Regions from separate parts of the Homo sapiens genome. Here region 2 is linked to region 1. Evidence: fine-mapped expression QTL. A gene starts in region 1. The other region holds a variant in brackets. All regions are shown on one strand. Distances are from middle to middle. Region 1 holds the start of PARP2 (poly(ADP-ribose) polymerase 2). Region 2 overlaps RPGRIP1 (RPGR interacting protein 1).

Region 1 (16,054 bases):
TGAATGTTTACTATAAATATTCAAGAAATGTAATATTCATTACCTTGTTTAATCTTCACATTAACCCAAGAATGTAAGCACTTTCATTATAACTATTTCACCAAAAAAAAAAAAAAAAAAAAGGAAACAGAGTTATAGAGATTAAGGAATTTGTCTATTTAGCAAGTGGTAAAGTCAGGATTCAGATCCCAGTTGCTATGGTTTGACTGTCCCCTTCAAAATTCATGTTGTCACTCTAGTTTCTCTTCATATCGCATAAATCTTTCACCTTTTACAAAATTCATGTTGAAACTTAATCCCTAAAGTGGCTGAAACTTAATCCTCATTAGAAGTGGGGCCTTCAAGAGGTGACTGGATCATGAGGGTTCTGCCCTCATAAATAAATTAATCTATTCATGGATTAATAGGTTATCATGGGAGGGGAACTAGTGGCTTTAAAGAAAAGGCAAAGAGACTTAAGGATAGCATGTTAGCAGTCTCAGCATCCTGGCCATGTGATTTCCTGCCACGCCTTGGAACATCACAGCGAGTCCCCTCCAGCAAGAAGGAGTTCAGATGCAACCCAGAGGCAGTCCTTAACCTTGGACTTCACAGCATCCATAACTGCAAAAAATAAATTTCTTTTTTAAAATAAATTACCCCACAGCCTAGCCAACATGGCAAAACCTCGTCTCTACTAAAAATACAAAAATTAGCTGAGCATGGTGGTATGGGCTTGTAGTCCCAGCTACTCAGGAAGCTGAGGTGGGAGGATCGATCACTTGAACCCGGGAGGCGGAGGTTGCAGTGAACCAAGATTGTGCCACTGCAGTCCAGCCTGAGTGACAGAGTGAGGCCCTGTCTCAAAAACTAACTAAATAAATAAATAAACCAGGCTTGGTGTGATGGCTTAGACCTGTAATCCTAGCACTTTGGGAGGCCGAAGCAGGTGGATCTCTTGAAGCCAGGAGTTCGAGACCAGCCTGGCCAACATGTCGAAACCCCATCTCTACTAAAAATACAAAAAATTAGCCAGGCATGGTGGTGCACACCTGTAATCCCAGCTACTTGGGAGGCCGAGGCAGGAGAATCGCTTGAACTAATGAGGTGTAGGTTTGGAGTACCGCTATACTCCAGCCTGGGAGACAGAGCAAGACTTTGTATCCAAAAAATAAATTAATTAAAAAACAAACTAATAAATAAGTGACCCAGTTTCAGGTATTCTGTTATAAGCAACAGAAAACAAACTGAGACAGCAGCCATCCAACTTGACAGCCCAAACTCAACCACCACATTGCACTGCTTCCTATATTGTGTGATTTCAGAAAACCTTAGAAAGTACAATATTCTTTTCAAATTCCCATTAAATATCTAACATTTCTTTATGATATTCTGTATTCCAGGCTTTAATACTTATAATAATCCATGATGAAATTCTCTTCAGCTGGTAACATCAAAATTTTGTGCTCTGTAAAATAACTTTGAAATTGTTTAAAAGTCGATAGATTCCTGGGGCCAGGTGTGGTAGGTCACATCTGTAGTCCCAATACTTGGTAGGTGGAGGCAGAAGGAGCGCTTGAGCCCAAGAGTTTGAGGGCAGCCTGGGCAGCATGGTAAAACAACTGTCTCTACAAACAATAAAAATAAAAAATTGCCAAGAGTGGTGATGCCTCTATAGTCCCAGCTACTAAGGTAGGCTGAGTCGGGAAGAGAGCATGAGCCCAGAAGGTAGAGGTTGTAGTGAGCTGTGTTTACACCACTGCACTCTAGCCTGGGCAACAGAGTGAGACCCTGTTTCAAAAAAAAGTAGATTCCTGGGACACACGTTCAGAGATTCTAATTCAGTGGGTGGGACTCAGGAATATGTATTTTAATAAGCACCCTCAGGTACTTCCGGTAGATTTGAGGCTCACCCTTTGGAGAACACCAACTGAATGACTATCGTTTAAGGATGTTATCACTGAAAGGGTGGTGGGGTTGAGGGATAAGGACTACATGCTGAGTACAGTGTACACTGCTCTGGTGATGGGCGCACTAAAATCTCAGAAATCACCAGTAACCAAACACCACCTGCTCCCCAAAAACCTATTGAAATAAAAAATAAATTTAAAAAAAGGAAAAAAGGGATGTTATCACTGCTGAAGTGAGTAAACTCTTGGAAAAGGCAGCACTCTAAAAATTTCATTTATAATTTATTCAAAATGAAGAATTGAGAATGGCCATTTGTCTGTAATTAAAAATTAAGCATCTCCTTTGCAAGTTTACATTTGGTTATCCACCCTGGAGAACTATTGTGCTCAAATGGGCATGTTCAAGGAAGGATGTTCCTTGTAGCACTGGTTATGACAGCAAAACAATTAGAAACACCCATGTCTATTCAAAGATCATTAAATCATGATACAACTATTCCTTGGCGGCAGGGGTGGTTAATGGGTACAAAAAAATCGTTAGAAAGAATGAATAAAACCTACTATTTGATAGCACAATAGGGTGACTATAGTCAATAATGACTTAATTGTACATTTTAAAATAACTGAAAGACTGTCCATGGATAAAGGTTTCAGGGGATGGATACCCCATTCTCCAGGATGTGTTTATTTCACATTGCACATAAAACATCTCATGTGCTGGGTGCGGCGGCTCACGCCTGTAATCCCAGCACTTTGGGAGGCCAAGGCGGGTGGATCACGAGGTCAAGAGTTCAAGACCAGCATGACCAACATGGTGAAACCCTATCTCTACTAAAATATACAAAAATTAGCCGGGCATGGTGGTGTGCGCCTGTAATCCCAGCTACTCAGGAGGCTGAGGCAGGAGAATCGCTTGAACCACGGAGGCGGAGGTTGCAGTGAGATGAGATCGCACCATTGCACTCCAGCCTGGGTGACAGAGCGAGACTCAGTCTCAAATAAATAAGTAAATAAATAAATATCTCATATACCCCATAAATTTATACACCTATTATGTACCCACAACATTTTTTAAATGATACAACCATTCTATGAGATACTACCCAGTAGTTAAACAGAATGAAGTAAATCTGCATGTACTGACATGAAAACATCTCCAATGCATATGAAGTGAAAATAGCCAAGAATAACACCATGTAATATGCTCACATTTATGTAACACTTCTCCCCCCCCCCACAAAAAATGCAAAATAGAATAATTCTGTATGTGCACATTTTTGCAAGTAAATGAAAAGAAAATAGTCTGGAAAGAGACACACCAAACTGCTAACAAGTTACTCCAAGGAGAAGGATTGAGGGAATTAAGGGAGGAGCTTTTTGGTTTTGAATATCTGCAATGTTTTACGAGAAGAATGTGTTCGTGTTTAAAAAATAAAACAGTACCTCTCCACAAAATAAGGGTAGAGATCCAAGAGTAGGTTTCAATTTAGAGGGGAGAAGAGAAAAGTAGGAGACCCCAACCCCCTAAGGCAGCAAAGGACAGGCTTCAAAGGCTAAATGGACACCACATTGAATGCCTATCCCCCAAGTTGAACCTAGGACTCCAGAGATTGGGCCTTCTACATGTTCAACACCTCCTACCCCAACTCTGAGCTACTACTTTCCCCCTTTTAATACGTCTCAGAACTCTCTCCATTTTAAATTAATATCTCTTGAGGATCCTTTCCTTCCAAAGTTGTAGCAAAGTAGAAGGTTCTCATCAACATCCCTTTCCTAGCTATTCCTGAAGACATGTATGCAAATTCCTTTAAATGGTGGTCCTGATCCGCAGCTTTGCTGATCACTTTTGGAAAATTGGCAAATAATAAATTTGGAAATTTGTTTATAACATCAGGCAATATAATATATAAATAAATATAAATAAGTTTGGAAACATATTTATAACATCAGGCAATATAATAAACCATACTTGTGGAATTTCAAAGCTTTTAAAATCTTACTAGTTTCCTTCAATTACTGATCTTTTTGATTCTGAATTTCTTTTTTAAACAACTCTCAAGATCCACCTCTTTGAATAAGGTAGGAAAGAGAAATCCTCAAGACAGTGAAGTTCAATAAAGTCTCACCTTTCCTTCAGAACCCACCCTCTTTTTCAAGTCATACCCCTTGCTCCTTGACACCCTGTCTTATTTAGTATCTCATTCAACAAATATCATTGAAAGCTAGATACTGTTCCAGGCATTGGTTACAGAGCAGGAAACAAAATACACAAAGCCCTGGCTCACTTGGAGCTTACAGTCTATTGGAGAGAGTCAGATCTCCTAAAAATTAAACAAATATATGTTAAGTTGTAATTAGTACTCTGGAAAAAAATAAAGCAGAGTAAGAGGCTACAAGTGATAATGGGAGTGATGTTATTTATATCAAGGAAGGCACCACTGCTACTAAGAACAAAGACCTGAAGAAAGTCAGGGATCAATCTTGTTAGCTGGAAGAAGAGTAGACCAGGTAGAGAGAACAGAAGCCTGTAGGGAGAAGAGTGACTGGTATGTTTGAGACAAAGTGGAAAGAGGCCAGAGTGCCTAACAGGAGTAAGCAAAGGGAAAAATAGTAGCAGATGAAATCAAAGCACTGGGGTAAGAAGCAGATCATATAGAGCCTGGTCAAGCCACAGCATTTGAGATGGGGAGCCACTGGAACAAAAATCTAACATGATCTAACTTTCATTTTATTTATTTATTTTTAAATTTATCTTATTTTTTAGACAGGGTCTTACCCTATTGCCCACACTGGAGTGAAGCAGGGGAATTGCTTGAAACCCGGAGGCAGAGGTTGCAGTGAGCTGAGATCACACCACTGCACTCCATCTGTAAAAATAAAGTAATTCTAGATAACGTGATGTCTTATCAGAAAATACTATAGCATGCTTTTTTTAAAGAACTTTTTTTTTCCTTTTGAGAAAGGGTCTTACTCTATCACCCAGGCTGGAGTACAGTGGCATGATCACAGCTCACAGCAGCCTTGACCTCTCAGGCTCAAGTGATAAATTATACAGCTAATTTTTGCACTTTTTGTAGAGTCGGGTTTCGCCATGTTGACCAGGCTGGTCTTGAACTCCTGGGCTCAAGCAATCCTCCTGCCTGAAGTTCTGACTGCTGAGATTACAGGCATGAGCCCCCACACCTACCCTAAAGGACATTTTAAAATCATAACTAGAATATCATTATTTTAAACCTAACTAGAATACCATTATAATATCTAATAAATAATTCCCTAAAATCATCCAATTTCCAGTCCATATCCACATATCCCCATTTATTGCTGGCTTGTTCAAACCAGCATCCAAACATTGCATTTGGCTGTTAGGCTTCAAATGTCTCTTTTACTCTAAAACAGTCCTAACAATTTTTTTTTTACATAATAGTATGAAGAGAGTAGGCCAGTTGTCCTGTCGAATATTAATTTGTATTTTTCATACTATGTGAGCCTGAATATCTTTTCCATGCACTTATTTATCAAATGCAAACTGTTTATTAATATCTTTCATCCACTTATCTATAGAGGTTTTGGTTTTAATTATGAAAATAAATTTGTTGGTTTCTTCCAGGCTTTTTTTGTTTTTGTTTTTCAGACAGAGTCTCGCTCTCGTCACCTAGGCTGGAGTGCAGTGGTGCGATCTTGGCTCACTGCAACCTCCGCCTCCCCAGTTCAAGCTTCTCCTGCCTCAGCCTCCTGAGTAGCTAGGATTACAGGCACCCACCACCATGCCCAGCTAATTTTGTGCTAGAGAGGGGGTTTCACCATGTTGGCCAGGCTGGTCTCGAACTCCTCACCTCAGGTGATCCGCCTGCCTTGGCCTCCCAAAGAGGTGGGATTACAGGCATGAGCCACCGCACCCAGCCGGTTTCTTCCAGTTATTGGTGACATGCTTCAGTACTATTTTAGTTACACTTGTTCTGTATTTGACTATAAAGAAGTTATATCTTCACAATATATTTTCAGTAATTCTCACTCTGACCACCATAATAACTAAAAAAGAAAAAGAATCAATAAAAACTTTAAAAATACATTTTTAAAAATGTGTGTGGGATGGTAACTACTGTCATGAAACAGAATACATTAGCCTAGTAGATAACAACATAATTTGGAGTCACCCAGATCTGGCCCTGCCTTTTAGGAACTGTATATTATGAGCTGAATTGTGTCACCTCAAAATGTATGTATTTGAAGAACTCTCATTATCTCAGAATCTGCCTGTATTTGGAGATAGGACATGTAAAGGGGTAATTAAGATAAAATAAGGTCATACGGGTTGGGAATAATCCAATATCACTGATGTCCTTATAAGAAAAGGAGATTAAGGGCCAGGCACCGTGGCTCACGCCTATAATCCCAGCATTTTGGGAGGCTGAGGCGGGTGGATCACTTGAGGTCAGGAGTTTGAGACCAGCCTGGCCAACATGGTGAAACCCTGTCTCTAATAAAAATACAAAAATTAGCCAGGTGTGGTAGCCCACGCCTATAGTCCCAGCTACTCAGGGGACTGAGGCAGGAGAATCGCTCAAGAACCTGGGAGGTGGAGGTTGCAGTGAGCCGAGATCTTGCCACTGCACTCCAGCCTGGGCAACAGAGCAAGACTCTGTCTCAAAAAATAAATAAATAAATAAAATAAAGGAGATTAGGACATAGATGCACAGAGAGGAAAGACAGCATCCATCTACAAGCCAAGGAGAGAGGGAGGCAGGCCTTAGAAGAAATCAGCCATGTCAAGACCTTTACCTTGGGCCTCTAGCCGCCAGAATTACGACAATGTATGTAGTTATAGCAGCCCTAGCAATACACTGTGTGATCTTGAATAAATTAAATTTTTCTAAAGCTCAGTTTCCTCAACTATAAATGGAGATAATAACATATGCCTCATGAGGTTGTTGTGAGAATTAAATAATGTATGTAAAGCTCATAGCATAGTAAGAACTAAATAAATTCTGGCTATTATTCTTATGAAGATTAAATGAGGTTATGCATGTAAAGCATTAGCTCAGCCTCTAGTACACAAGAAAGTTCTACTAAGTATTAGCTATTTTTAATAAATTTTCATTTCATAAAGGCTTATATTTTTCCTATCTCCAAAGTATTTCCTTTTAGACCTAGTCTAATTTATTTGTGTCATAATTAAGTCAGATGTAACAGGCTTTGTACCGCTGAAACAGGTTAAGCAATCCTATCCAACAACATTTATTGAGCACTTACATTTTGTTAGATTTATTTCCAACTACTTGATATGCTTTGGTGTTATTGTAAATGCTACCTTATCCAAAAATTTTATTTATAGTTGTTTGAAGCTCTTTTATAAGCATGGAATTTATTTTCACACGCTATTTTCTATCAGTCTTGCTAGGCTTTGTATTAAGGTAAAATTTTTATCCTGTAGTTTCTTCTAGCTTTTAAAATATTCATAATCAAATTACATGCAAATAATGAGATTTTGGGTTTTTTCTTTCTAAACTTTACATCTTTTGATGAACAAAAATTAAAATGTATCAATTTTTTTTTCTTTGTTTTTTTCAGACGGAGTCTCACTCTGTCACCCAGGCTGGAGTTCAGTGGCGGGATCTCGGCTCACTGCAACCTCCGCCTCCCGGGTTCAAGCGACTCTCGTGCCTCAGCCTCCCAAGTAGCTGGGATTACAGGCGCCCGCGACCACGCCTGGCTAATTTTTCACTTTTTTTTTTTTTTTTTTTGTAATAGAGACGAGGTTTCGCTATTTTGCTCAGGTTGCTCTATAACAGATACTATGCTATCCTAACAATATGTTTCTAAATGATATTAGTGCCAAAACCAGGATTACCCAGTGATTTTGTTAATACAGGCTTATTGAATCGGAGGGTCTGGGGTGGGGAATTTGCTTAAGTATGCAGTCCCCATACTCGGTGATTCTCATGAAGCCAAACATTTGGGCGCCCCTCACCTGATGTCACCAAGAACCAGAAGACCAATTAGAATTTTCGTGGGCTTCCTGCCCCATGGTTCCCTCTGTTCCCAAAGGGTTTCTGCAGTTTCACGGAGCTTTTCACATTCCACTCGGTTTTTTTTTTTTTGAGACTCGCTCTGTCGCCCAGGCTGGAATGCAGTGGCGCGATCTCGGCTCACTGCAAGCTCCGCCTCCCGGGTTCACGCCATTCTGCTTCAGCCTCCCAAGTAGCTGGGATTATAGGCGCCCGCCACCACGCCCGGCTAATGGCTAATTTTTTGTATTTTTTTTTTTTAGTAGAGATGGGGGGGGGTTTCACCGTGTTAGCCTGGATGGTCTCGACCTCCTGACCTTGTGATCCGCCCGCCTCGGCCTCCCAAAGTGCTGGGATTATAGGCGTGAACCACCGCGCCCGGCCCGGTTTCGTTTTGTTTTTTTTTTTTTTTTTTTTTTCCAAAAATGGGCGGAGGAGAGTAGTCTGAATTGGGTTATGAGGTCCCCTGCGGGGTACCTCACCTCAGCCATTGAACTCACTTCGCTGGCCGTGAGTCTGTTCCAAGCTCCGGCAAAGGAGGCATCCGCCGGGCCCCTCCCCGAAGGGCGGGGTCCACGGCATCTCCTGCCCAGTCTGACCTCGCGCGGAGCCCCGTTCTCTGGGAACTCACCTCCCCGAAGCTCAGGGAGAGCCCTGTTAGGGCCGCCTCTGGCCCTAGTCTCAGACCTTCCCAAGGGACATGGGAGTGGAGTGACAGGACGCACTCAGCTCGTGGCCCCACTGATGAGCTTCCCTCCGCCCTATGGGAAAAAGTGGTCTCATACAGAACTTATAAGATTCCCAAATCCAAAGACATTTCACGTTTATGGTGATTTCCCAGAACACATAGCGACATGCAAATATTGCAGGGCGCCACTCCCCTGTCCCTCACAGCCATCTTCCTGCCAGGGCGCACGCGCGCTGGGTGTTCCCGCCTAGTGACACTGGGCCCGCGATTCCTTGGAGCGGGTTGATGACGTCAGCGTTCGAATTCCATGGCGGCGCGGCGGCGACGGAGCACCGGCGGCGGCAGGGCGAGAGGTTCGGAGCTCAATATCGCGGGACGGCATGCGGGGGGCGGGCAGTCAGAAAGGAACGATGCCACCTACTGTGACCCCCTTCCCCTTCCAGCTCCCTATAACCTGCACTTGGCTACCAAACCAGTTGGGGTGCTAAATTTTGTAAATTTCGGTTTTCAGAGCTTTGGGGATTACATAATTGTGCATAAAGCCTTGCGGAGCTGTAACAACTAATGTGCCAGTACTGTTGTTAATACCTAATGTCATCCAATTTACAAAAAGTAATTGTAAGGCACACCATTATTTTATACACAACAAAGGATAAGCACTGAAAATGGTGAACTGTGATTCACTGCTTATGTCATCCATTGTAAGATGCATCCCAGTTCCAGAGAGTAAAATGCGAGTCTTAGACCTATTGAGATACGGTATTATGTGTATAATGTTCTTAAATGCATAGGTGCACCCTATAAATTAGGTTCTATTGTACTTCTCTAGAAGTACAGTATTGTACAATATTCTAATATTGGAGTAAGTGAAGTAGGAAGAGATCAAATACTTCTCCAAGTTTCCACAGAGAAAAGCAGCAGAGCTAGGCTCTAAATTAGGCACAGACCCTTGAGCACTTAACTAACCTTTATCCCATACGGCCTCATGTATGAGGTGGGTATTTGGGGGACATTGGGACACAAGTAAAACAGATAAGCAGGCCTCAATCTATGAGCTTACAAGACTCCTGGGACTCCCTTTTATTTTGTTTTATTTCATTTGGCTAGAATAGCAATTTAGGAAGAATTACACAGACTGTTACACAAAAGTAGTGTGGGACAGTTGTTATTGCCTCTGTAAACTTAGAAAATTATCTTAAACCGGCGGGGTGAGGTGGCTCACGCCTGTAATCCCTTGGGAGGCCGAGGAGGGCAGATCACTTGAGGTCACGAGTTCGAGACCAGCCTGGCCAACATGGTGAAACCCTGTCTCTACTAAAAATACAAAAATTAACTGGGCATGGTGGTGCACGCCTGTAATCCCAGCTACTCAGGAGGCTGAGGCACGAGAATCACTTGAACCCAGGAGGCGGAGGTTGCAGTGAGCCAAGATCGCACCACTGCAGTCCAGCCTGGGCGAGAGAGTGAGACTCCACCTCAAAACAAAAAAAGAGAGAAAATTATCTTAAACCATTTCTTTAAAAGATTTTTTTCAATCTTTAAAATCTACACGTATTCGGGTGTGTACTCATTCTTTGCTAATTTCCAAATTCTGTAGCATTAAATGAAAGCAAAAGAGTTAATAATGGCAACACGGCTCCAGAAGACTCTTCCCCTGCCAAGAAAACTCGTAGATGCCAGAGACAGGAGTCGAAAAAGATGCCTGTGGCTGGAGGAAAAGCTAATAAGGACAGGACAGAAGACAAGCAAGATGGTATGCCAGGAAGGTCATGGGCCAGCAAAAGGGTCTCTGGTAGGAGTGGATCTGGGGATGATATCTTGTTATTTCAACTCCTATTTCGTCCTTCTTTCAGGGAATAATTAATTTCTCTATCCTTTGGGCATACCACAGCACTAATCTACTGCCTTGAATCTTCATTTTCATGTATTTGAGATGGATTGGGGTCTAAGGAAAGACCAGGATTGGTTGGGCGGGCAAAGTTAATCCTGACAAGTTTCTGTTTTACCACAACAGCTGTTTTTGATTCCCATAAAGTAGTACCTATCTGTCTTTCCTCAGAATCTGTGAAGGCCTTGCTGTTAAAGGGCAAAGCTCCTGTGGACCCAGAGTGTACAGCCAAGGTGGGGAAGGTAAGAGACTCTGGAACCGATCTTCAGTCCATGGATATCTCAGAGAGCATCCTTTGTTATAAGGACTCCTGTCTGGGATGCTGTTAGTACTCATTTTAGGAATCCTCTCCAAAATATGATGAGTGAGTAGTTTTCTCTAATGGCAAGAGATAGGAGTGGTAGGGCTTGGGGTTAATAATCAGGGTGTTTTTTAACATGGTGTGTTAGACCATTCTTGCATTGCTGTAAAGAAATACCTGAGACTAGGTATTTTATAAGAAAAGAGGTTCCTAGAGGCTGTACAGGAAGCATAGCAGTATCTGCTCCTCAGGAGACCTTAGGAAACTTTTACTCATGGCAGAAGGTGAAGCGGGAATAGGCACGTCACATGGCAAAAGCAGGGGAGAGAGAGAGAGACAGAGAGAAAGGGAGAGAGAGAGATTGGAGAAGGTGTCACAGAGAGAGAAAGAGAGAATGGGGAGGTGTCACACGCTTTTAAACTACCAAATCTTGTGTGAATTCACTCACTATCAAGAGGACAGCAGCAAGACAGTGGTGCTAAACCATTCATGAGAAATCCACTTCCATGATTGAATCACTTCCCACCAGGCCCCACCTCCAGTACTGAGGATTACAATTCAGCATGAGATTTGGAAGGAGACAAATATACAAACTATATCACATGCGTACCTTTTGTGGTTGCCATCAGCCTTCTACACCTCATTCTCTTTTTAAACCAGAAAATGGTATCATTGTTAAGGGAAAACTGTTTTCTTGTTCTAATGAGAAACTGTACCCTGGAATGGCATGAGTTACTGATGAATGGGGAAAAAAGAAGGCTACCTCTGGAATAAGTTTTCTTTAACTCAGTTAGAATCTTTTTTTTTTTTTTTTTTTTTTTTGAGATAGAGTCTCACTCGGTCACCCAGGCTGGAGTGCAGTGGTGTGATCTCAGCTCACTGCATCCTCCACTTCCTAGGTTCAAGTAATTCTCTTGCCTCAGCCTCCCAAGTAGCTGTGATTACAGGTGCCCACCACCACGCCCAGCCTGGGCTAATTTTTATATTTTTAGTAGAGACGGGGCTTCACCATGTTGGCCAAGCTGGTCTCGAATGCCTGACCTCAAGTGATCTGCCCACCTTAGCCTCCCGAAATGCTGGGATTGCAGGCATGAGCCACCATGCGCAGCCTAACTCAGAATCTTTTGTATAGTTAAAAAAAAGGAAGCATGTTTTCATTTATAGTAAGGTTACACCCAGGTTACTGGTAGAACATAGGTTTGCAATTCTTTCCTTGGGAGATGAATGTTGATGTTGCTGTAGAATGATGACTTGAGCCATAAGAAAATTTAGAGCCTCATTTAGGATGTCAGGGCTGAACCTATACTAATGTTGATTTTTTCTCTCTCTCCCTTTCTAGGCTCATGTGTATTGTGAAGGAAATGATGTCTATGATGTCATGCTAAATCAGGTAAGAGGCAAGAAGAGGTGGCACCATTATATTTATGAGACCATCTTCTTGATAATTATTGATGATAGCATCACAGTGTTCAGATCTTTAAAGTCCCTTTTTTTTTTTTTTTTAAATTTTGTTTTTTCTTTTTGAAATGGAGTCTCACTTCATCTCTCAGGCTGGAATACAGTGGCACAATCTCGGCTTACTGTAACCTCTGCCTCCCAGGTTCAAGCAATTCTCCTGCCTCAGCCTCCCAAGTAGCTGGGGTTACAGGCGTGCACCACCACTCCCAGCTAATTTTTTGTATTTTTAGTAGAGACAAGGTTTCGCCACGTTAGCCAGGGTCTGGTCTCGAACTCGTGACTTCAAGTGATCCACCCACCTCAGCCTCCCAAAATGCTGGGATTACCAGGTGTAAGCCACCACGCCTTGCCTAAAGTCCTTCATATGTGTGTGTGTATATATATATATATATATATATATATATATATATATATATATTTTTTTTTTTTTTTTTTTTTTTTTTTTTTTTTTTGAGACAGAGTCTTGCTCTGTCACCCAGGCTGGAATGCAGTGGTGCAATCTCGGCTCACTGCAATCTCTGCCTCCTGGGTTCAAGCAATTCTCCAGCCTCAGCCTCCCAAGTAGCTGGGACTACAGGTGCAGTGTCTGGCTAATTTTTTGGTATTTTTAGTAGAGATGGGGTTTCACCATGTTGGCCAGGCTGGTCTTGAACCCCTGACCTCAGGTGATCCACCCACCTCACCCTCCCAAAGTGTTGGTATTACAGGCATGAGCCACTGCGCCCGGCAAGTCCTTTATATTAATATTAGCCATTAGTGGTTAAACACCTGAGTACTCAGCCCTAGCACACTCTTATCAGATAGCAGAGTCCTCTGTGAGAAGATTTTTTTTTGCAAATTTCATATCATTTATTGAAATTGTTAACTCTCTGTTCATATCCTTTTGCACATTTTTTTTTTTTTTTTAAACAGACAGGATCTTGTTCTGTCACCCAGGCTGGAGTGCAGTTTGTACAGTCATAGCCCACTGCAACCTTGAACTTCTGGGCTCCAGCAATCCTCCCACCTAAGCTTCCTGAGTAGCTCGGACTTCAGGCGCATGCCACAAAGCCTGACTAATTTTTAAATTTTTTATGGAGATGAGAATCTCGCTATGTTGGATAGGTGGTCTTGAATTCTTGGCCTCAAATGATCCTCCTGCCTTGTCCTCATGAGGCACTGGGATTACAGGGATGAGCCACTGGGACAAGCTGTTTTGCACATTTTCTAAAGTTATTGGTCCTTTTCTTACTGGTTTCGAGGAACTTTATATAATATGGAGAATAGCCTTTTGTCTGTAATACAAACCACTTGTGTTTTCCAGATTTGTCATTTACCTTTTGGTTTTCCTTATAGTACACTTTTTGCCCATATTGAAGTTTTAAATTTTTTCTGTAGTTAAATTTATTAATTTTTCCTTTTTAAAAAATTTTGGGTTTTTTTTTTTTTAATTTTAGAGACAGTGTCTTGCTATGTTGCTCAGGCTGGCCTTGAACTTGTGACCTCGTGTGATCCTCCAACCTCAGCCTCCCAAGTAGCTGGGACTACAGGCATCTGCCCCCAAGCTCAGCTTTCTTTTTAATCAACCTTTTTCTCTTGTTTACCTTTGTGGTTTTGAGTAGATAATACATTTGCCTCATTAATATATTTCCTGGATATGACTTCATGTTTGAATTTATTGATCCAACATATATAATTTTAACAACCAATTAGTATTTATTTCTTACTATTTCTTCTACTTAAAATACCACGAGCAGATAGAAAATACCTTAAGGTTAGCCAGGTGCAGTGGCTCACGCCTGTAATCCCAGCACTTTGGGAGGCTGAGGCGGGCGGATCACCTGAGGTCGGGAGTTCAAGACCAGCCTGACCAATGTGGAGAAATCCCATCTCTACTAAAAATACAAAATTAGCCAGGTGTGGTGGCATATGACTGTAATCCCAGCTACTCGGGAGGTTGAGGCACGAGAATTGCTTGAACCTGGGAGACGGAGTTTGTGGTGAGCCGAGATCGTACCATTGTACTCCAGCCCTGGGCAACAAGAGCAAAACTCCTTCTCAAAAAAAAAAAGAAAAGAAGGAAAATACCTTAAGGCAGCCAGGTGTGGTGGCTCATGCCTGTCATCCTAGCACTTTCGGAGGCCAAGGCTGGAGAATCACTTCAGGTGTGAGTTCAAGATCAGCCTGGGCAACATGGTGAAACCTTGTCTCTACAAAAAAATACAAAAACACCGGGCATGGGCCAGCTACTTTGGAGGCTGAGGTGGGAGGATTGCTTGAGCCTGGGAGGTTGAGGCTACAGTGAGCTGTGATTGAGCCATTGCACTCCAGCCTGGGTGACAGAGGGAGACCCTATCTCAAAAAAATAAAAAATAAAAACCATAAAAACATTTACAAAAAAATTTTTTAAAGGAAAAGAAAATATCAAGCTGGGCATGGTGGCTTATGCCTAAAATCCCAGCACTTTGGGAGGCCAAGGCGGGCAGATCACTTGAGTTAGGGGTTCAAGACCAGCCTTGCCAACATGTTGAAACTCCATGTCTACTAAAAATACAAAAAAAAATTAGTCTGGCATGGTGGCGTGTGCCTGTAATCCCAGCTACTAGGGAGGCTGAGGCACAAGAAATTGCTTGAACCTAGGACACAGAGGTGGCAATGAGCGGAGGTTGCACCACTGCACTCCAGCCTGGGCGACAGAGCAAGACTCTGTCTCAAAAAAAGAAAATATCTTAGGCTCCTTTTTGTTCTAACATCTAATGACCTTTTTTTTTTCACCAGTGGGCTAAGGTCGTACAATGGCTTTAGAATGTGAGCAAGCAGGAGATAGAGGTAGGAAGGGGCAGCATGCTTAACAAAAAAGAATGCCTCCATATCCAGGGCTCGGCCATACAACACCAGCTGCTATGCCTTATCATGGACTTCTCTCTCTTCACTCTGAGTGATTTACTTACAGATACCTCTTTTTAGATACTGGCCATATTCTCTCTCAGTATCTCCAAGTCAGGTCAGGTTAGGTATGGGACGGATGTGGCAGTGGTTTTGCGTATCCCTTGTCCCCTCCCATTATTGCCCTGCTCTCAGCTCATTGTCAAATTTCTGCAGCTGACAAACAAAAGCTGTGAGTAGAACTGTCAAGGAGTAAGTCATTTAACAGTTGAGCATAACAGGTTTAGACCTTTGGAGCATCCAAATTGTTTTCATTTGGGAAATAATTATTGGGAGTGGATTGGGAGCTGGAAAACACATATAGCTTAGAAAATATCTAAATAGGGAGCTGAGGCAGGAAAAAACTGGAGGAGCCATTCAATGTAGGATATTTGAGGTTGGATAGAGGGTTTTAGGAAGCTTCTAGGCTCCCACTTTAATTCCTAAGAATCCAAAGTTTAATGTATAAGCCCTATTTCTTCTTTATATCTTTAATCTTACAGGAATCTAATTTTCTTGCCTGATGCTATCCTTTTCCTTATGGAAATAACTGGCACCTGTGACGAAGGATGAGTCATTGGTTTATGTGATTTCCATTTGCAAAACTCCTTTTTTTTGTTTTTGTTTTCACTCAACATAGACCAATCTCCAGTTCAACAACAACAAGTACTATCTGATTCAGCTATTAGAAGATGATGCCCAGAGGAACTTCAGTGTTTGGATGAGATGGGGCCGAGGTAATGATTTTTATTGAGATTTTATGAGTTGGCATTCAGAAAGTCAGAAGCAGCTTAGTGGGTGGCCAAAGGATTCTCTGGGTTTAAATTGGGTCAGTAGAGGCTCTGAAGTCTGGGAGAGCCTTAGGAATCAAGTTGAGCATCTTGAAATTGGGGAATGGCAGGCATCCTCCTTAGAGTTCCC
Region 2 (8,000 bases), 960 kb after region 1:
CAGCCTCCCAAGTAGCTGGGATTATAGGCATGCGCCACCACACTCAGCTAATTTTTAGTATAGACGGGGTTTCTCCATGTTGGTCAGGCTGGTCTTGAACTCTTGACCTCAGGTGATCCGCCTGCCTCGGCCTCCCAAATTGCTGGGATTACAGGCTTGAGCCACCACGCCAGCCAATTTTTATTTATTTTTGAGACAGAGTCTCACTCTGTTTGGGCTGGAGTGCAGTGGTGTGATCTCGGCTCACTGCAACCTCTGCCTACTGGGTTCAAGCGATTCCCCTCCCTCAGCCTCCTGAGTAGCTGGAATTACAAGCTTGCACCACCACGTCAGAGTAATTTTTTTTGTTGTTTTGAGATGAAACCTCGCTCCGTTGCCCAAGCTGGAGTGCAGTGGCGCAGTCTCGGCTCACTGCAACCTCCACCTCCCAGGTTCAAGCAACTCTCCTGTCTCAGCCTCCCAAGTAGCTGTGACTACAGGCACACACCACCATGGCCAGCTAATTTTTTTTTTTTTTTTGGAGACGGAGTCTCCATCTGTCGCCCAGGCTGGAGTGCAGTGGTGCGATCTCGGCTCACTGCAACTTCCGCCTCCCGGATTCAAGCGATTCTCCTGCCTCAGCCTCCCGAGTAGCTGGGACTATAGGTGCCCACTGCCACCACTGGCCGTGCTGCCCAGGCTGGTCTCGAACTCCTGAGCTCAGGCAATCAGCCTGCCTCGGCCTCCCAAAGCGCTAGGATTACAGGTGTGAGCCACTGTGCCCAGCCATGCCTGGCTAATTTTTTTTTTTTTTTAGTAGAGATGGGGTTTCACCCTGTTGGCCACGGTAGTCTCAAACTCCTGACCTCAGGTGATCCACCCACCTTGGCCTCCCAAAGTGCTGGGATTACAGGCATTAGCCAACACGCCAGGCCTTAATATTTGTATTTTTTGTAGAGATGGGGTTTCACCATGTTGGCCAGGCTGGTCTCAAACTCCTGACCTCAAATGATCCCCCCATCTTGGCCGCCCAAAGTACTGGGATTACAGGCATGACCCATCGTGCCCAGTTAATTTATTAGAAATAGTATTAATTAGCCAGCCACAGTGGCTCACGCCTATAATCCCAGTACTTTGGGAGGCCAAGGCGGGTGGATCACGAGGTCAGGAGTTCAAGACCAGCCTGACCAACATGATGAAACCCTGTCTCTACTAAAAATACAAAAATTAGCTGGGCGTGGTGGTGGGCGCCTGAAATCCCAGCTACTCGGGAGACTGAAGCAGAATCACTTGAACCCAGGAGGCAGAGGTTGCAGTGAGCCGAAATTGTGCCATTGCACTCCAGCCTGGGCGACAAGAGCAAGACTCCATCTAAAAAAAAAAAAAAAAAGTATTAATTCATTTAATAGTCTGAAGAGGTATTATTAAGAGGAAAAGGAAGCATAAAGAGGTTAAATAAGTTGCCTGAGATCATACCTAGTGCATAACAGAGGTGGAATCTCTTTTTGTTTTGTTTTGTTTTGTTTTGTTTTTGAGACAGAGTCCTGCTGTGTCACTCAGGTTTGAGTGCAGTGGCGCAATCTCGGCTCACCGGCAATCTCTGCCTCCCGGGTTCAAGTGATTCTCCTGCCTCAGCCTCCCAAGTAACTGGGATTACAAGCATGTGCCACCATGCCTGACTAATTTTTGTATTTTTAGTAGAGACAGGGTTTCACCATGTTGGCCACGCTGGTCTCGAACTCCTTTCCTCAAGTGATCCGCCTGCCTCGGCCTCCCAAAGTGCTGGGATTACAGGTGTGAGCCACCGCGCCTGTCCCAGTGGGAAAAACTCTTAACTTCAAAACATATTATTATATACAGTGATCTTAGATTTCTTTCTTTAGAAAATGGGGACCTGGAAAGAAATCTGAGACGGAGGTGAGGGAAGGTAAACAGATGGGAAGAATGGGAGTTCTCAAAGTCTGGAGTCTATCTCTAGGACACATTTTGAAGATACTGGTGTCAATGCCTTCCAGCCAAGGACCACCAGGAACATACCAACAGTTGAGCAAGCTGGGCTTATTCATTACAGCTAGAGAATATGCACACCAGGGGAACTAAAGGCATCTCAGCAAATGTGTTAGAACTTATTATAGTATCTAAGCTTTGTTTGATTGGGTGATTTTGGGGGAGGATCCAAGGAAACAGAAGTTTGCTCCAGATTTCATGCTGTCAGAAAGCAAGCACAATTCTATGTTTCGGTATCTCAATAAATTATTCTTTCTTTCTTTCTTTCTTTCTTTCTTTCTTTCTTTCTTTCTTTTTTTTGAGATAGGGTCTCACTCTGGCACACAGGCTGGAGTGCAGTGGTGCAGTCTCAGCTCACTTTAGCCTCAACTTCCTGGAATCAAGTATCAATAAATCTTATCTACAGGGAGGGTAAACTAGTGCAAGGCTGAAGCCATGATTGGTAAAGAAGTTGCAGTCACTCATATTAACCTGGAGAGAAGGATGTTTGGTATTTTGTGGGTGGCAGTGACACTAATTTTGTCTGTAAGCAGACAAAATTAGGCAGTGGACTTGTTTTGTATCATTCTATCATGGTTTTGGAGTGAACTTGTTTCATGTTGATGTTCTGTGAGGTGTCCAAAAGAATAGTGGCTGGGCACGGTGGCTCATGCCTGTAGTTCCAACACTTTGGGAGGCTGAGGTGGGCAGATCACCTGAGGTCAGGAGTTCAGAGACCAGCCTGGCCAACGTGGTGAAACCCCGTCTCTTCTAAAAATACAAAGATTATCCGGGCGTGGTGGCAGGCGCCTATAATCCCAGCTACTCAGGAGGCTGAGGCAAGAGAATCGCTTGAACCCAGGAGGCGGAGGTTGTAGTAAGCAAGGATTGCGCCACTGCACTCCAGGCTGAGTGACAGAGTGAGATTCGGTCTCAAAACGAAAACAAAAACAAATGGAGATAGCACAGACTAGCTTCAAACAACACTGAGGACCAGTTGTGTCAGACCAGTTTCCTAATGTCAAGGGCAGTGTTTTGCTTTCTCATTGTAACCCCCAGGAGTGATTAAGATCTTCGTTTAGAATCTGCAGGATTGGCCGGGCGTGGTGGCTCATGCCTGTAATTCCAGTACTTTGGGAAGCCAAGGCGGGTAGATCACTAGGTCCGGAGTTCAAGACCAGCCTGTTCAACATGGTGAAACCCCGTCTCTACTAAAAATACAAAAATTAGCTGGGTGTGGTGGTGGGCGCCTGTAATCCCAGCTACTCGGGAGGCTGAGGCAGGAGAATCTCTTGAACCCGGGAGGCTGAGGCTCTAGTGAGCAGAGATCGCACCACTGTGCTCCAGCCTGAGCAACAGAGTGAGACTCTGTCTCATAAAAAAAAAAAAAAAAAAAAAAAGAATCTGCAGGAATGCAGGCCTCCATTGTGGATCAGCACTCTTCAGAGTTGGTGATTTTTTTTTTTTGAGATGG[G/T]AGTTTCGCTCTTGTTGCCCAGGCTGGAGTGCAATGGCGTGATCTCGGCTCACCGCAACCTCCGCCTCTCAGATTCAAGCGATTCTCCTGCCTCAGCCTCCCAAGTAGCTGGGATTACAGGCATGTGCCACCACGTGCAGCTAATTACAGACAGGGTTTCTCCATGTTAGTCAGGCTGGTCTCGAACTCCTGACCTCAGGTGATCCGCCCACCTCAGCCCGGCAAAGTGCTAGGATTACAGGCGTGAGCCACCGCAAAGGGCCGATTTTTTTTTTTTTAATTGTTGAGAACTTGAGAATCTAGTGACTTGAGTGAAGTCAGAAGGTTGTATGGGCCAAAAAATCTAGTTTCTTGGTTGATAATCAAAGAGTACTTGAGATTATGGATGCTAAATGGTTAATCTGGATTCTATGCCCCTGGCTTTGGGCAAGTTACATAGCTATTTTACACCTTGTTTTCTTTATCTGGGTATAATGATATGTAATAATAATAGCTCACACCTGAAGCCCTTACAGTGTAACCCCACTGTTCTAAGCATTTTACATATATATTTATATATAAGCTTATTAATCCTCACAACAATCTACTGCTTTTATCTTTTTCTATTTATCTTTATTTATAAATGAGGAAACTGAGCACAGAAAGGTTAAGTGGCATGGCCAAAGCTACAGTTAGTAAATGTCAGAACAGACGGGCAGTGTGTCTTAGTCAGCTCAGGATGCCATAACAAAATACCACGGACTGGGTGGCTGAAACAACAGACATTGGTTTTCTCAGAGTTCTGAAGCTGGAAGTCTGAGATCAAAGTGTCAGCGTGGTTGGATCCTGGTAAGGGCCATCTTTCTAGCTTGCTGACTGCTGCTTTCTCACTGTGTCTTGGGAGGTGGGAGAGGGAGATCTCTTGTTACAAGGCCACAGTCCTATCCAGTTAGGGCCCCACCCTTGTGAACTCATTTAAACTTAATAACCTCCAAAGGCCGGGCGCGGTGGCTCACGCATGTAATCCCAACACTTTGGGAGGCCAAGGCGGGCGAATCACTTAAGGTCAGGAGTTCGAGATCAGCCTGACCAACATGGAGAAACCCTGTCTCTACTAAAAATACAAAATTAGTATTTTGTGGTTAGGCGTGGTGGCGCATGCCTGTAATCCCAGCTACTCAGGAGGCTGAGGCAGGAGAATCGCTTGAACTTGGGAGGCAGAGGTTGTGGTGAGCTGAGATCGTGCCATTGCACTCCAGCCTGGGAAACAAGAGAAAAAGTCCGTCTCAAAAAAAAAAAAAAAAGCCTCCGGAACACCCAATGTCCAGATACAGTCACACTGGGGGTTAAGGCTTCAACATAAGAATTTTGAGTGGGGACACAATTCAGGCCATAGCACAGTGAGAGCATAGAATCAGATAGTAGCAAAAAAACCATGATTTTAGGTCAAGATAACAAATAAAAATTGTTACTAAAAGTTATAAAGGAGTTATCCTTAATTTGGAGCACATATACAGGGGTGTGTAGACAAGTGGGATAGAAAAAGCAAATATTAAAATTGTTATTTATATTTGTCACCCATTTAAACATACATATTTTGTTTTATAATGACAATTTATTAGTACAAAAACAAGTCTATATATAATTTTTTTAAATGCACACAAATACTATTGGGGTAGTGGCTCAACTTTTTTTTTTTTTTTTTTTTTTTTTTTACTAAGATAAGGGTGTAATCACTGCAATAAAATAAAGACAGGTATCACAATGGCCCTGCCCTCAAAGAGTTACAGTGTACTGGGGACAGAAGGCTAATCTTTTTAAAGTGTGGTTAATAGATCACGGTAGATGAATACATATTATAGATCAATTCGTGATTATATGTCCCAAATAACCCGTAGAAATAATAACTGTCATGAAAGGAGAAGCCACGTGCTCTATTTGTCCACAGGCTGAGGACCACCTTGCTGCGGTTGACCGCTGCTGGCCGGGACCTGCGGGTCGCGGAGGAGGCGGCGCCGCTCTCGGAGACCGCAAGGCGCGGGCAGAAGGCGGGATGGCGGCAGCGCCTCTCCATGCACCAGCGCCCCCAGATGCACCGACTGCAAGGGCATTTCCACTGCGTCGGCCCTGCCAGCCCCCGCCGCGCCCAGCCTCGCGTCCAAGTGGGACACAGACAGCTCCACACAGCCGGTGCACCGGTGCCGGAGAAACCCAAGAGGGGTGAGATTTAAGGCTACATCCCCTACAGGGCTAAGACACTGGGAAGGACTGATGTGCCAGCCACGTTTTCCTCACTGCCTTCTTCTGCCCACCACCCCATTTTGTTCTTTTGTTCTCACTCCCTCCTTTCTGCCTCCCTAAAATCTTTATTTCCTGAGTTGGGATATCAGATTCAAAATTCTAAATTCACCATGGAGTGTCGCTGAGGGCAGAATCAGACAACAGGTCAGGAGATGGAGACCATCCTTGTCCAACATGGTGAAACCCCGTCTCTAATAAAAATACAAAAATTAGCTGGGCATGGTGGCGCGCACCTGTAGTCCCAGTTATTCGAGAGATTGAGGCAGGAGAATCACTTGAACTCGGGAGGCGGAGGTTGCAGTGAGCTGAGATTGCACCACTGCAGTCCAGCCTGGCGACAGAGCGAGACTCTGTCTCAAAATAATAATAATAATAATAATAATAATAATAATAATAATAATAATAAAAAATTAGCCAAGCCTGGTGGCACATGCCTGCAGTCCCACCTACTTGGGAAGCTGATGTGGGAGGATCGCTTGAGCCTGGGAGGCGGAGGCTGCAGTGAGCCCAGATGGCACCACTGAACTCCAGCCTGGGCAACAGAGTGACACTCTGCCTCAAAAAACAAACAAAACAAAACCCCCAAAAAGAAAACTCAACGTTGAATCTCTAGAGTAGACACCTCATTCTCATGGCCCTAAATCAGGAATGAGTAACCTAGGTAAAGGAAATCTACACACAGCATTTCATTAAGTACTCTTATTTTATTAGTAAGTACTCACTTATTTTGCTTAGTGTGGTCCTATAATTTCAAGTTCCATACTCCAGACAACCAAACGCATGCAAAAACAACTGAAAGTAGAAAACTTGCATGAATTTAAATTTCAGTTCCATTTAACAGTTCAGCATAGCTGGCCACCTGTTATGTACTGGGCACTAGATACAAAGATGGTTAGAGTTAGACACACAGTCTCTGCCCTGGACAAGCTTCCACCTTTCTTTTTTCTTCCTATTTGTACTTACTCACTTGAGGATCTATAGTCTGGCTGACTTTAGTTGCAGTTTTTTGCAAGAGTAAAAAAAAAACTGCTCCTCGGGGACCATTTGTCATACAAGGGTTTCACCCAGGTCTCAAGACTCTATGCCCAGCCCTTCATGTTCCAGTTTCAGTACTTGGTGTTCCGGAGGGTACTGTTGCCCGAGTCTGCATCTTCTGTCTAAACTTTTAGGGCCAAGGGACAGGCTGAGCTACACAGCCCCTCCATCGTTTAAGGAGCATGCGACAAATGAAAACAGAGGTGAAGTAGCCAGTAAACCCAGTGAACTGTGAGTTCTTCTCATTTATCCCATGTTGTTATTCCTGCCACTTTAATTAGAAAGACATCATTTAGGGAACAAATGAATGTTGGTGATTTGAGTCTTTTCAGCATGATCAGGGAAGATGAAAGTCGACCCTAGGTCAAATTCCAACTTCATTGCTTAAAAGTGGAAAACAAGCGTCTCTCTGTTCTCTGAGGAAATGAAAATAAAGGTCCATTTCTCAGTTGAAGGTATTCCCTCTATTTACATTTATATTTTTTTCCTTAGGTCATAATTCCTTTGTTGTGTTTTTTTTTTTTTTTTTTTTTTGAGATGGAGTCTTGCTCTGTTGCCCAGGCTGGAGTGCAGCAGCGTGATCTTGGTTCACTGCAACCCCTGCCTCCCAGGTTCAAGCAATTCTCCTGCCTCAGCCTCCTAAGTAGCTGGGACTACAGGCATGTGCCACCATGCCCAGCTAATTTTTGTATTTTTAGTGGACACAGGGTTTCACTATGTTGGCCAGGCTTGTCTCCAACTCCTGACCTTGTGATCTGCTCGCCTTGGCCTCCCAAAGTGCTGGGATTACAGGTGTGAGCCACCACGCCTGGCCCATAATTCCTTTATGTTTTGTTTGACATTTGAAAGCTGTATTTTATAAGATTTTCCTCGACATGTACCAAGGTTACTGATTCACTTAATTTCTTTTTATATGTGTAAGAACCCAATTCTAAACTCCTGTAACAACAGTTTCTAAGTATCCTTTTTGTATTTAGTGTTTCTGGTTCTAACAGCATAATTTCTTTCAGCAGTGTCATAAGTATGGCTAAACCCATTGGTCTATGCATGCCTAACAGTGCCCACATCATGGCCAGCAATACCATGCAAGTGGAAGAGCCACCCAAGTCTCCTGAGAAAATGTGGCCTAAAGATGAAAATTTTGAACAGAGAAGCTCATTGGAGTGTGCTCAGAAGGCTGCAGAGCTTCGGTAAGAGTGTGGCACTCCATGCCTCAAACCAAAACGAACTGAAAAAGCTAAGAGAT

The links.
Region 2: its variant is fine-mapped to the expression of PARP2 in ovary (GTEx, PIP 0.97).

What each region holds. Positions count from the first base shown.
Region 1 is chr14:20,334,753-20,350,806 of GRCh38, forward strand. It overlaps PARP2 (poly(ADP-ribose) polymerase 2), which reads left to right and starts at 8,883. Exons shown (of 16, transcript NM_001042618.2): 1 at 8,883-8,935; 2 at 10,180-10,335; 3 at 10,642-10,712; 4 at 12,111-12,161; 5 at 15,774-15,870. The coding sequence starts at 8,890. It also overlaps RPPH1. RefSeq lists enhancers at 7,766-7,865, 8,796-8,965.
Region 2 is chr14:21,295,600-21,303,599 of GRCh38, forward strand. RPGRIP1 (RPGR interacting protein 1) reads left to right here. Exons shown (of 25, transcript NM_020366.4): 4 at 5,367-5,638; 5 at 6,889-6,985; 6 at 7,732-7,944. Among named protein-coding and RNA genes, the nearest start is that of RPGRIP1, 20 kb to the left of the region's middle. The variant G/T (reference allele first, on the strand shown) is at 3,440.